Homo sapiens: one gene and its partner. The protein of the gene in region 2 purifies or fractionates together with the protein of the main gene of each other region. This does not show direct contact. Each region holds a gene or a part of one and is shown on either strand. Other genes may lie near its edges.

The links. The genes of interacting proteins can lie anywhere in the genome.
Region 1: the proteins of GML (region 2) and ITGA8 purify together in Homo sapiens (affinity purification with mass spectrometry; one large-scale study listed by BioGRID and IntAct). This does not show direct contact.

What each region holds. Positions count from the first base shown.
Region 1 is NC_000010.11:15,607,558-15,612,470, forward strand, and holds part of ITGA8 (integrin alpha-8 isoform 1 preproprotein), read right to left. Parts: intron 734-4,913; coding exon 678-733; intron 275-677; coding exon 120-274; intron 1-119. UniProt on the Homo sapiens protein: Integrin alpha-8/beta-1 functions in the genesis of kidney and probably of other organs by regulating the recruitment of mesenchymal cells into epithelial structures.
Region 2 is NC_000008.11:142,836,836-142,841,748, forward strand, and holds part of GML (glycosyl-phosphatidylinositol-anchored molecule-like protein precursor), read left to right. Parts: intron 1-3,580; 5' UTR 3,581-3,602; coding exon 3,603-3,675; intron 3,676-4,282; coding exon 4,283-4,390; intron 4,391-4,913. UniProt on the Homo sapiens protein: May play a role in the apoptotic pathway or cell-cycle regulation induced by p53/TP53 after DNA damage.

The DNA of each region.
Region 1 (4,913 bases), on a different chromosome or scaffold from region 2:
GAAAATGAAAACAGACAGATGGGGGTCTATGCAGACAAACATGATGGTTAAATGGAGAAAAATGGTTGGAATTTGGATATGAAGGAGAGAGGCCAGAGAAGTCTTTCTGGAATACTTACTCGAAGGTAAACGATGAAATCCTGGCACTGGTGGGATTTCTGCCTTTTTATCACAAGAGGGAAGACGCGATGAGCCTGATGGTTATCAAGGAAGAGCGTCCGTTTAATAGCTCCTTTCTGTTTCAGGGAATCTAATTGCACCTCTGCCATCAAGACTAAAGGACAGAAGTAAAGTAGAGAAAAAGTATTCAGTGAACACAGTGCTCTATCAGAGAGATGAATTTCTATTTCAAGTTGCTTATTCAGGAAACAGTTCTTTTTCATAGTTGAGACCAAGCATGATAAATGAGCTGGAAAAATTGTATAACATACTCTCCAAGCTACAAATGTTTTATAATGGTTTTATAAAAGTTGTCATTTTCCCTACAATTATATGTTCTTATAAATAATAGTATTACCAAGTATTGAAGTAATATTTATTAGAAGGTTCCATATATGCAACAGATATCTTGGTATTCCTCAAGGGTTCTTTCATTTTTTTATGGTCTGTGCAGAGAAATGGTTACTGTTCAACTTTCTTAGTATACCATAAGAATGTAAAAATGAAAACATGCTTACCTATTGTGTTTGCAATGCTCTGGCCTGTGACAGATGCACATACTCTTAAAGAAAAGCTATAGAAAATAGTAGTAATTTATTGGTTAATAAAGTTTTGAATCTAAAGTAGAAGCCTTCCTTTACCTAATCCCAGATAACGAATATCATTTTCTCTATATATTTCTAATTACACACACACACACACACACACCCACACACACACCCCTTCTACCAATTGATCTCAACACTAATACAATCAAGACAAGTGACATTATTATTACATGGAAGGTAATACTGGAAAATAGTACAGGAGGTTAACTGATTTAATCAGTTGCTCAATTAGTCAATTACTTGTTGCTTTTATTCAATGAATACAGGTCAGTATCTTCCATGTGCCAGGGAGGGAAGAATTAGGCAGCAGAGCAAGAGGATAGCCAGAGGTAAAATCTGGAGGTGAGTAAGAATCTGGACCCATTTGAGGAAACTGAAGAAATTCAGTGTAGTCGGGGCACTGAGCAAGATGGCAAAGTTGTAGGAGGCAAGGCTGGCTTGGTGGATCGGTGAGGAACAGGGCTTTGAAAGTCATGCTAAAAAATGCAGATTTAATCTTCAGAAGCATGGAGCACATGGTATGCTTAACTTAAAACACCCACTCTGCTTGGAAGGAGATGAAATTTGGCAGAACCTTGCTACAGTTGGGGTAAGACTGGAGGTTGAGACGAGAAGAGGGAGGGGAGAAAGAGAAAACAGGAAGTTTAGCATGGCTGTCTCAAGCTAGGTGGGCACAATGATATAGGAATAAAGACAATCAAGAGAGGGCAGATGTCCATGAGAGACACTTTGGAGTTGTGCCTTGAACACACCATCACTACCATTCAAGGCAATGTCTGCACTGGCTTATAGGATGATCTGCACTTGGCTTTGGTCTGTGGCTACAGATGGAATGAGAGACGACTGACTCCCTGGCTGCCTTTGTTGAATGAAAGTGCTCACCTCTCCCTGAAAAATTCCAAGCCCTAACAGCTATCACTAGAGATGGGGCCTTTTCACATTTCTAGGAAAGTGAAAATATAAGAAAATACTTAAGTATGGTTTAATGACAGTCATAAACTTTTACCAGTAAAATACTATAGTATGATGTGGATATTTCTACAGAATTCAAAGGGAGTAAATAATCCCCAATCATACTTTAATTATGTGTCAGCTTCCTGTGTCAAATATAATGAAAAAGTGTCACATCTGGGATTCATCTATCTGCTGTGACCTCAGTCAATGTCTCCCCTCAGGGTAAATAATTTGCCACATACCATTAAGCCAAAAGTTTCCTGAAATGTCTACGCTATTACAAGTGTTTATTCCGCTTCCCCAGAGAAATCACTGATTCCAACTTGCTTCTGCTTCAATTAGAATTATTCAAGAAAGATGAAGAGTTAATCACATCTTTCAATTTTGTAGTAAGCCTGGCTTTCAAAATTAGAATTTTTCTGTATCCAACCTTTTTGAAAGTATTTTGGTGTATGTTCAAATCAGCCAATGATCTTTTTTTCCATTCATCTTTAACTGTGTAGACCAAAGCCATTAGCTTTTATAAAATAAATTCCTATTTGTAATGACATTATCAACATATATACATTAAAATCATTTTAGATACAGTATTTTTAATACAAACAATTCAAAATAACTAATTTTTAAAAAGGAATAAAGTTATACAAATGAACATTTTTTTCCTTATGGGATGGTATATAGTTGATAAATGATGTTATCAGCTAAAGGGTTACTATTTATTTATGAATTACCTGTCAGTATAAATCTCTATTTCTTTCTTAGCTCACTCTTTCTGTTTTCTGAATATCATTACCAAATGGATGACTTTAACTTTTTTTTCATACAAGTGTAATATCACTGCTACAATGTACTGAATTCTCAATAATAGCACTCCAACCTAAACCTGCCAGTTAATAGATTACTTTAGTGGAAAAGAGTCTGTGAAGTCATAATTTTTCAAACTCTGTGTTATGATCTAAAGAAAATTTCAAGATTTTATAGTAGTGGGCTGATGTGTTCATGCTGAATTTAGGAAAACATACTATATTATATATAAGCACACATACATCACAGGTCATATGGAGCATAGAATTAGGATCACTTGCAGGCCTACAGCTAATTACAAAGTATACTTGGGTCATTAGGGAAAGCTGTAAACTTTCATTAAATTAGAATTAAAATTTCAAACTAGAAATATTGGTCATTTTCAGTATGGCCCATTAGTCTAAATAGGTCTGATTGGAACAAAAAAACCCATCAAATCAATCCAAGTCCCTTATTACATAAATTCTAAATTAAACTGTTTGTGGACAGTGCTTTTGATATGGCCAGAAGGCAGGGTGATACACTACATGATCTTCTGAGGCTAGTCCCAACCCAAGCACGGTTGGAATAATGATTCTGCGTTGTGACTGTGCTCACAGCTGTCTATGATGAAGAGAAAATGAGATAAATGTGAAACACGATTTAAAAGTACAAAGCAATTCATTTTACATTCTCATCAGTTTTCACTCCTATTTCAGTGATAGCAAATAGCAGGTTTCACACAGTCACTCACATCTGACAAGTTTTTTTAATCAGGTTGGACAACTGGGTCGTTACTCACTTTTACATTTCTAAAATGAAGTATTTCGCTAGTTTTTCTTTTTGTAATTGGTTAGTCACCAGTTATATTAATATTTATTGAGCTGGCTTTTTTCCCCCTTTTTCTAACTTAGAAATACCAATTAAAGATAGATACTTTATAAAACTACACCGCTGTTTGAAAGACACAGAAATCCACATCGATGGAAGTGAAGAACTATTTGCCAAGTAGAGTTTATGTGATAGTTTTCAGATGTATGATATAAAGTTATATCAAATACAGACACAAATAACAGCAGAGAAAATCAACGGAGACCTTTCAATCATTTTGGAAAAACTAAGCTAAGTTCCTAAAATAAAGAAAAAAGAGAATCAAAGAAACACATTCTAGACTGAACCAGCTGTTAACTTTCTGTCTTCTGAGGCTCTGAGGCACCATTCACAAATTTTGCATGTGAAAATAAGACTTCTTCCAGAAAAATGTATGCAATAGAAACAAATATAATTGTAAAGGGATATACATTTGTCCACATAACAAATTGCACTTTATCTTAATAATATGATTAAATGCAGTAAGAAAATGGCTCATGAAAAGAAAGACATTTTCTTGTTAAAAAGTAATATTCTTTCCATAAAACCAAACAGAACTCTTTTTTTTTTTTTTTTTTGAGACAGAGTCTCCCTCTGTCACCCAGGCTGGAGTGCAGTGGTGCGATCTCAGCTCACTGCAAGCTCCGCCTCCCAGGTTCATGCCATTCTCCTGCCTCAGCCTCCTGAGTAGCTGGGACTACAGGTGCCCGCCACCGCGCCCAGCTAATTTTTTGTATTTTTAGTAGAGACAGGGTTTCACCATGGTCTCGATCTCCTGACCTCGTGATCTGCCCGCCTTGGCCTCCCAAAGTGCTGGGATTACAGGCGTGAGCCACCGCGCCCGGCCCCAAACAGAACTCTTAATCTGGTTAAAAAAAAAAAAAAAAAACCACACACTTCAGTCTTATACAAATATGCATTAAACTAAAAACCCTTAGAATCAATTATCTAGTTCAAAACAACAACATTCTATATCAGAGTGTACCACATGTGCTTAAAGGAATTCAGCCTAGAAGTCCATTCTGTTATGAAGGTGTGAACATGAGCCTATTTGGGGGAAATACTGAAGTTTTAATACTCATGAACAAGTAGCAACTCTCACAGTTCATTGTTCATTTAATCATGCAGGGGTAAGGATAAACGCTGGCTCTCTGACATATTTTCTCAGATCAGGTTTTCATTATACTATTTTATGGTTTTAACCAAATGTGCCCAGGGCATTTTCCAACTCTTTTCAAGAGCAGTTAAAGAAGAGGATGCTCTCCCGCCACACTCCCCAGCTCCCAGCAATAGGATGTTTTTCAAAGAATTCTTCAGGGTCCTCTAAGTCCCCACCCTCCACCCTCAAAAGCTTTGACTCCAGTATGAACTCCTGTCAAAAGGCCATCAACAACATGTTAAAATTGGCTGGAAATAACTTCTCTGGGTCAAGAGTGGTTAGTTCTGCAATTCTGACATTCTCAGAAACCAAAAATACTGTCTGAGTTAGACCACGTCTCCTGAAAAATAAGGGCAAAATATTAAACACCCCAAGGATTT
Region 2 (4,913 bases):
GAGCGGTGCCCTTCCCCTTCTCCTACAGAGTGTGGCTTGTCTCGTGTTGAAGTCAAATAAAATAGATGACTTTCTGAAATTGAAATCTTTTCTTTCGGAGGAAATAATTGTAATTAGGGGCATGGGGGTAGACGGGCTGGCATTCAGTATGTCCAAAGAACAAAGAGAAGGATTTTTAAAATTTGCAGTGGCTCACACCTGTAATCCCAGCACTTTGGGAGGCTGAGGCAGGCAGATCACTTGAGGTCAGGAGTTCAAGACCAGCGTGGCCAACATAGTGAAACCCCGTCTCTACTAAAAATACAAAAATTAGCTGGGCGTAGTGGCGTGCGCCCATAGTCCCAGCTACTCAGGAGGCTGAGGCAGGAGAACTGCTTGAACCCTGGAGGTGGAGGTTGTAGTGAGCCGAGATCACGCCATTGCACTCCAACTCCAACCTGCAGGACAGAGCGAGACTCTGTTTCAAAAAAAGAAACTATGTCTCTTTTTTATAAAGAAGAGAAATAGTACATATTGCTGTCTGAGTTTCATTGGCACTAGTAGGATTTTGGGGAGCTGGCAAGCTCTGGTTGATGAGTGAATCAGTGACAGCAGTGGGTGAACCGAGGCTTAGAGTTGCAGCAGGTGGTCTCAGTAGCCATCAGATAAAACTGGTTTCAGGTTACCGCAGGCAGTTTCAGCAGTCAGGCCTCAGAGAAGTACATTCTTGGAGCAATGTTTTCTATCCTGAGTGCTGAATGGTCTCCCTACCTGGCACTCTGCCTTAGTTGGGTGTGACAAGGGTGACCCAATTTGTATGCTCACCTTTCACACCGAATCCTCAGCTCGGACAGGTTTCCCTGTCTAGGCTTTGACTTTCCCCTTGAACCTCATCCCACACACCTGTTCCATCGGGGCCACTGGCTTATGATGGAGACCAGTGGTATGACTGTGGCAGGCTCCTTCTAGGGGCACTCTGTCTCCTGGGATCTGCCACACTGGGGGGGATTCTACTTGGCCTTCTCTGACTCCCCAGGGTCCCTCCCACCACAGCACTTGGAGGCTCTTCCATGGGAAAACTGTCTTGATCTTTAGGTACCTGGAGATTCTGGGCCACTTTGGTTCCCCGTGAGCCAAGACGGCACTCTGGTTTGCATTCCCTACTGGAGTCCCTGTCTGTAGCCAGCCTGGCTTTCAGCTGGTGCCCAAAGTGACAAATGTATTTGCAATGACAAAGGGTACCCTGGGAAGGGCTCGCCCTCTTCGGAATTTCAGTTTACGTGGGCCTTGGTGCTTCCACATCTGTCCAAGGGCCTTTCAAATGTGACTTTTAACTCTGTGGATTGATTTGCCTGGTTGTCACATTCTGAGCAGCCACAACCTACTGCATCCCATGTAGAAGTGGAAGTGACCTGATTTTTTCCTGACTTTTCAAGGCTGTATGTTTACATTTGCCTCCAATCATTCCTATATGGGAATTCCTTGGGAGTCTAACTTGGAGATTTTGTTTCTTCTGCCTTTGCTCCTGGGGGCTTAATCACTTCTGTGCCTCTGGTTATCTGTGGCACATTTGTATTTGTCATTAGTCAACCGGAGACTCGGGGTCTGAGTGGAGGGTATGTCCCCCTCCAGTGATGGTTTCTGTTGGCTTCCCAGGGTGAGGATGACTCATGACCACTTGCAAGTGGTTTTTGTGTCTGGGGTTTATGATCACACAGTCATACACGTTCTAACTCCAGACTGACTGTTGAGAAAGCCTCTGGGTAAGGAATTCCTGGGAAACACACTGTTTTCATGCATCCTCTGGAAGATGAGGCCTGAAGTTACCAGGGTCTCTGTTTGCTGATGCTGATGATCCACATTTTCTAGCCCACTCTGCTTCTCTGACACCTTTAGTCTTGAGGATCCATGCTCTGTGAAGGAATCCAAGCTCTCATTTCGCACTCACCTTGGCCCTGGCTCTGTCTCCAGGACCTCTTCTACTACAAAATCCTAAAGCTCTGGGAGCTGGGTGTCAACCTGTGCCCGAGGAAATCATACAGTTACTGTGGACTTTCCAGTTTGCTGTCTTCTAGTATTCCATTGTAGCTCTTGGGTATTTTCCCATCCACCCCAAGATCCAGCTGGAAATCAGTGAACACACTTGATGGGAGTTTTCCTGCATGTGCTCTGGGCATTGACAGTAGAAGGGTGTTCAGAATGTCTGCTGTGCCCTCATGGAGGAAGAGGGCCTCAGTGTACATGCTCTGGGTCAGTAGGTGCCCTTGAGCCCAGCTTTGGGAGCAAGTGTTGGATGAGTGAAGGAGGCATCCAGGGAAAGCAGGCACGACAGAGTGGAGACGGGGCTGCTGGGTCTCAGGGGAATGGGCATGGAGTGGGTAGGAGATCCACCTAGGGAGGCTGGCTGGCTGGACGAGTCAGGAGCCCCTTCCAAGGGTGGACACTGACAGGCCCCCAGTCTTGGTCTCCTGCATGCCAGAGGTACCAGCCCATCTTTTTTCCTAAACTTGATGACCTAGGGCTAGGGGCATTTTGAATCTCAGCCTCGCCCACTGGCGCTGGACTTGGTACACAGGGTGGGGCAAAGTGGGTACTGGATCCTGATCATCCCTATCCCTGGGGTGTGGCTTCTTGCTGCACAGTCAGCTTCTAGTTCTGTAGCCCCAGCTGCTCCTGCGGTGGAGGGAGCTACACATCAGGCTCTGACCCCCTCCAGGTGGGGCCTTCGCGTGAGGGGAGTCAGCACGCATCAGCAGCTGGGCCCAGGGAGTTGCCCCACTGAGCACTGCGGGCTGACCTGCTCCCAACCAGGGAGATGGAGCTTCCCCCTTGAGTCGGGCTGCTGAAGGGGGGTAGGGGATGGAGACAGTGCGTTTGCAGGAGTAAGGGTGCAGTTGGGTCCCTGCGAGAAAATGTCTCAGTTGTGGCAACTGATTGGTGACCTGGGGGGCGTTTCTGAGCCCACAGTGCTGGCATCAGGACTCAGGTGTGAGGTGCCCCAGACCCTCCCCTTGCCAGTAATTAGCTGATGGCTCGGTGATGCCCAGGGTGAAGGAAGACTTGATTTTGGGAGGGGAGTTCTCTCGTAATGACACTGAGGATGCCTTCAAGTTGGGCTTCTGGCATGTTCTGCCCTCGCTCCCCTTCTGTAGTCACCTTGGCCCTCGTGTTGCTGAGCTGTGTGTGGGAGCGGGAAGCGCGTCAGTGGGCGGAGGGAGCGGGAAGCGCGTCAGTGGGCGGAGTATTTGAGAACATTTCACAAGCCGCTGTTGAGGTTCAGAATCAACCAGCAGATACAGAAACATATTTCGGAGCGTGGGGACCCTTGGGTGAGCTGCCACATGAAGCAGCCCCAGGACCTCCCTGGCTCAAGGAGTGACAGCGAGTTTGTCTGAGGTGAGGGCACAGGCCTGGCGAAGCCTCGTGTGTGGGTGAGACCTGCCCGACCCCAGTGCCTTACCCGAGGAGCTACTGGCCCAGTGGGGGAGGCATTCAGGTGGGCAGAGTCAGGGAGACTCATGAGGCCGTTGAGGCCAGGGGCATAGAGCTGGCCAAGGAGCCATGGCTCACTAACGTGTTGTATGGGGCTCCTTCCCTTCAGGTCCAGGCTCCTGCGTGAAGTGATGCTCCTCTTTGCCTTACTCCTAGCCATGGAGCTCCCATTGGTGGCAGCCAGTGCCACCATGCGCGCTCAGTGTAAGTATCATTCCCTCTCACTGTCCTGGAGAGGACGAGAATTCACCTGGGGTGCTGGGGGTCACTGGGATGATTGGCTGCAACGTGGAGCAAGCCTCCGTTAGCTGGGGCCTGCATTGTCTGTGTAATCAGGGGTGGGCACTAGGGCAGTCCAGGAGTAGTCATGAGCAAGGAGAGGGTTAGGATGAAGGAGCAGCTGACCAGGGACCAAGGGGGAACCTTGATGTGGCCCTTCTCCATCAGCGCCAGGCAGGAGGGGCTCTGTCCAGGGAAACCCAGGAGGATGGCGGACCCCTGTGAGTATCCAGTCTTCCTTGGCGAGGTGAGCCAGGTCTGCAGAGCATAGCAATCCCGTATGTGACCACCAGTGGCGCTCTCTGGAGCCTGCGTTGGAGAGCAGGGAAAGCTCTCCTTGTGCCTGGCCTCCCTCCCAGGAGCTAGCCTGGGCCAGACTCAGACTGCATAGAGAGCTGAGCTGTGCAGGCTAGGAGAAGTCCTTGGAAGCAGAGGGGAAGGGCTGGCCGTTGAAGAAGGGTGGAGTGAGCTGGTAATGGGTGGAAAAGGCGTAGTGGAGCAGAAGCCTGAAGCCTGCTTTCTCCCCTCTCAGGGACTTACAGTTTGAGATGCCATGACTGTGCGGTCATAAATGACTTCAACTGTCCCAACATTAGAGTATGTCCGTATCATATTAGGCGCTGTATGACAATCTCCATTCGTAAGTACCTCTTTGTCATTTTGACACATTGTAGATTAGTCCCCTACCTGGGTAGTTTCTGGGGCCAGGGCCAGTCTGCTTTCTTCTCTGCACCCAGCTCTGTTTCCCCTTCCCTCATGTCCTCCCATCCTGAGTGCGTTTCTGCACGCTTTGGTCTCAGCCTCATGATAGGCCAGCATGCATCATCTTGTAGAGCCAGGTACTCTGCAAAGTAGTACAATCTGTCCACACATCTGCAGCGTCTCCAGGGGGTAGGAGCATTGCTGGACCTCAGAGCCTCTACTGTCCCTGGTTGTGTGTGTAGACACCCCATGCTGCCTGGGTGAGTCCTCACTGGCCATTCAATTTCTGGTAGTCTAGAGAGTGCTTCCAGCTCGGCAGGTCAAAGCAGTGGATGGGCCATGGACTCCCCCCAGGGAAAAACCTACCACACACAGATGGGAAGGACAAGCATGAGGTCAGGGCACAGCCTGCACTTCCAGGATGCTCTTGCTTTTTCCTCAGAGCCCTCTGGTGCCCTCTC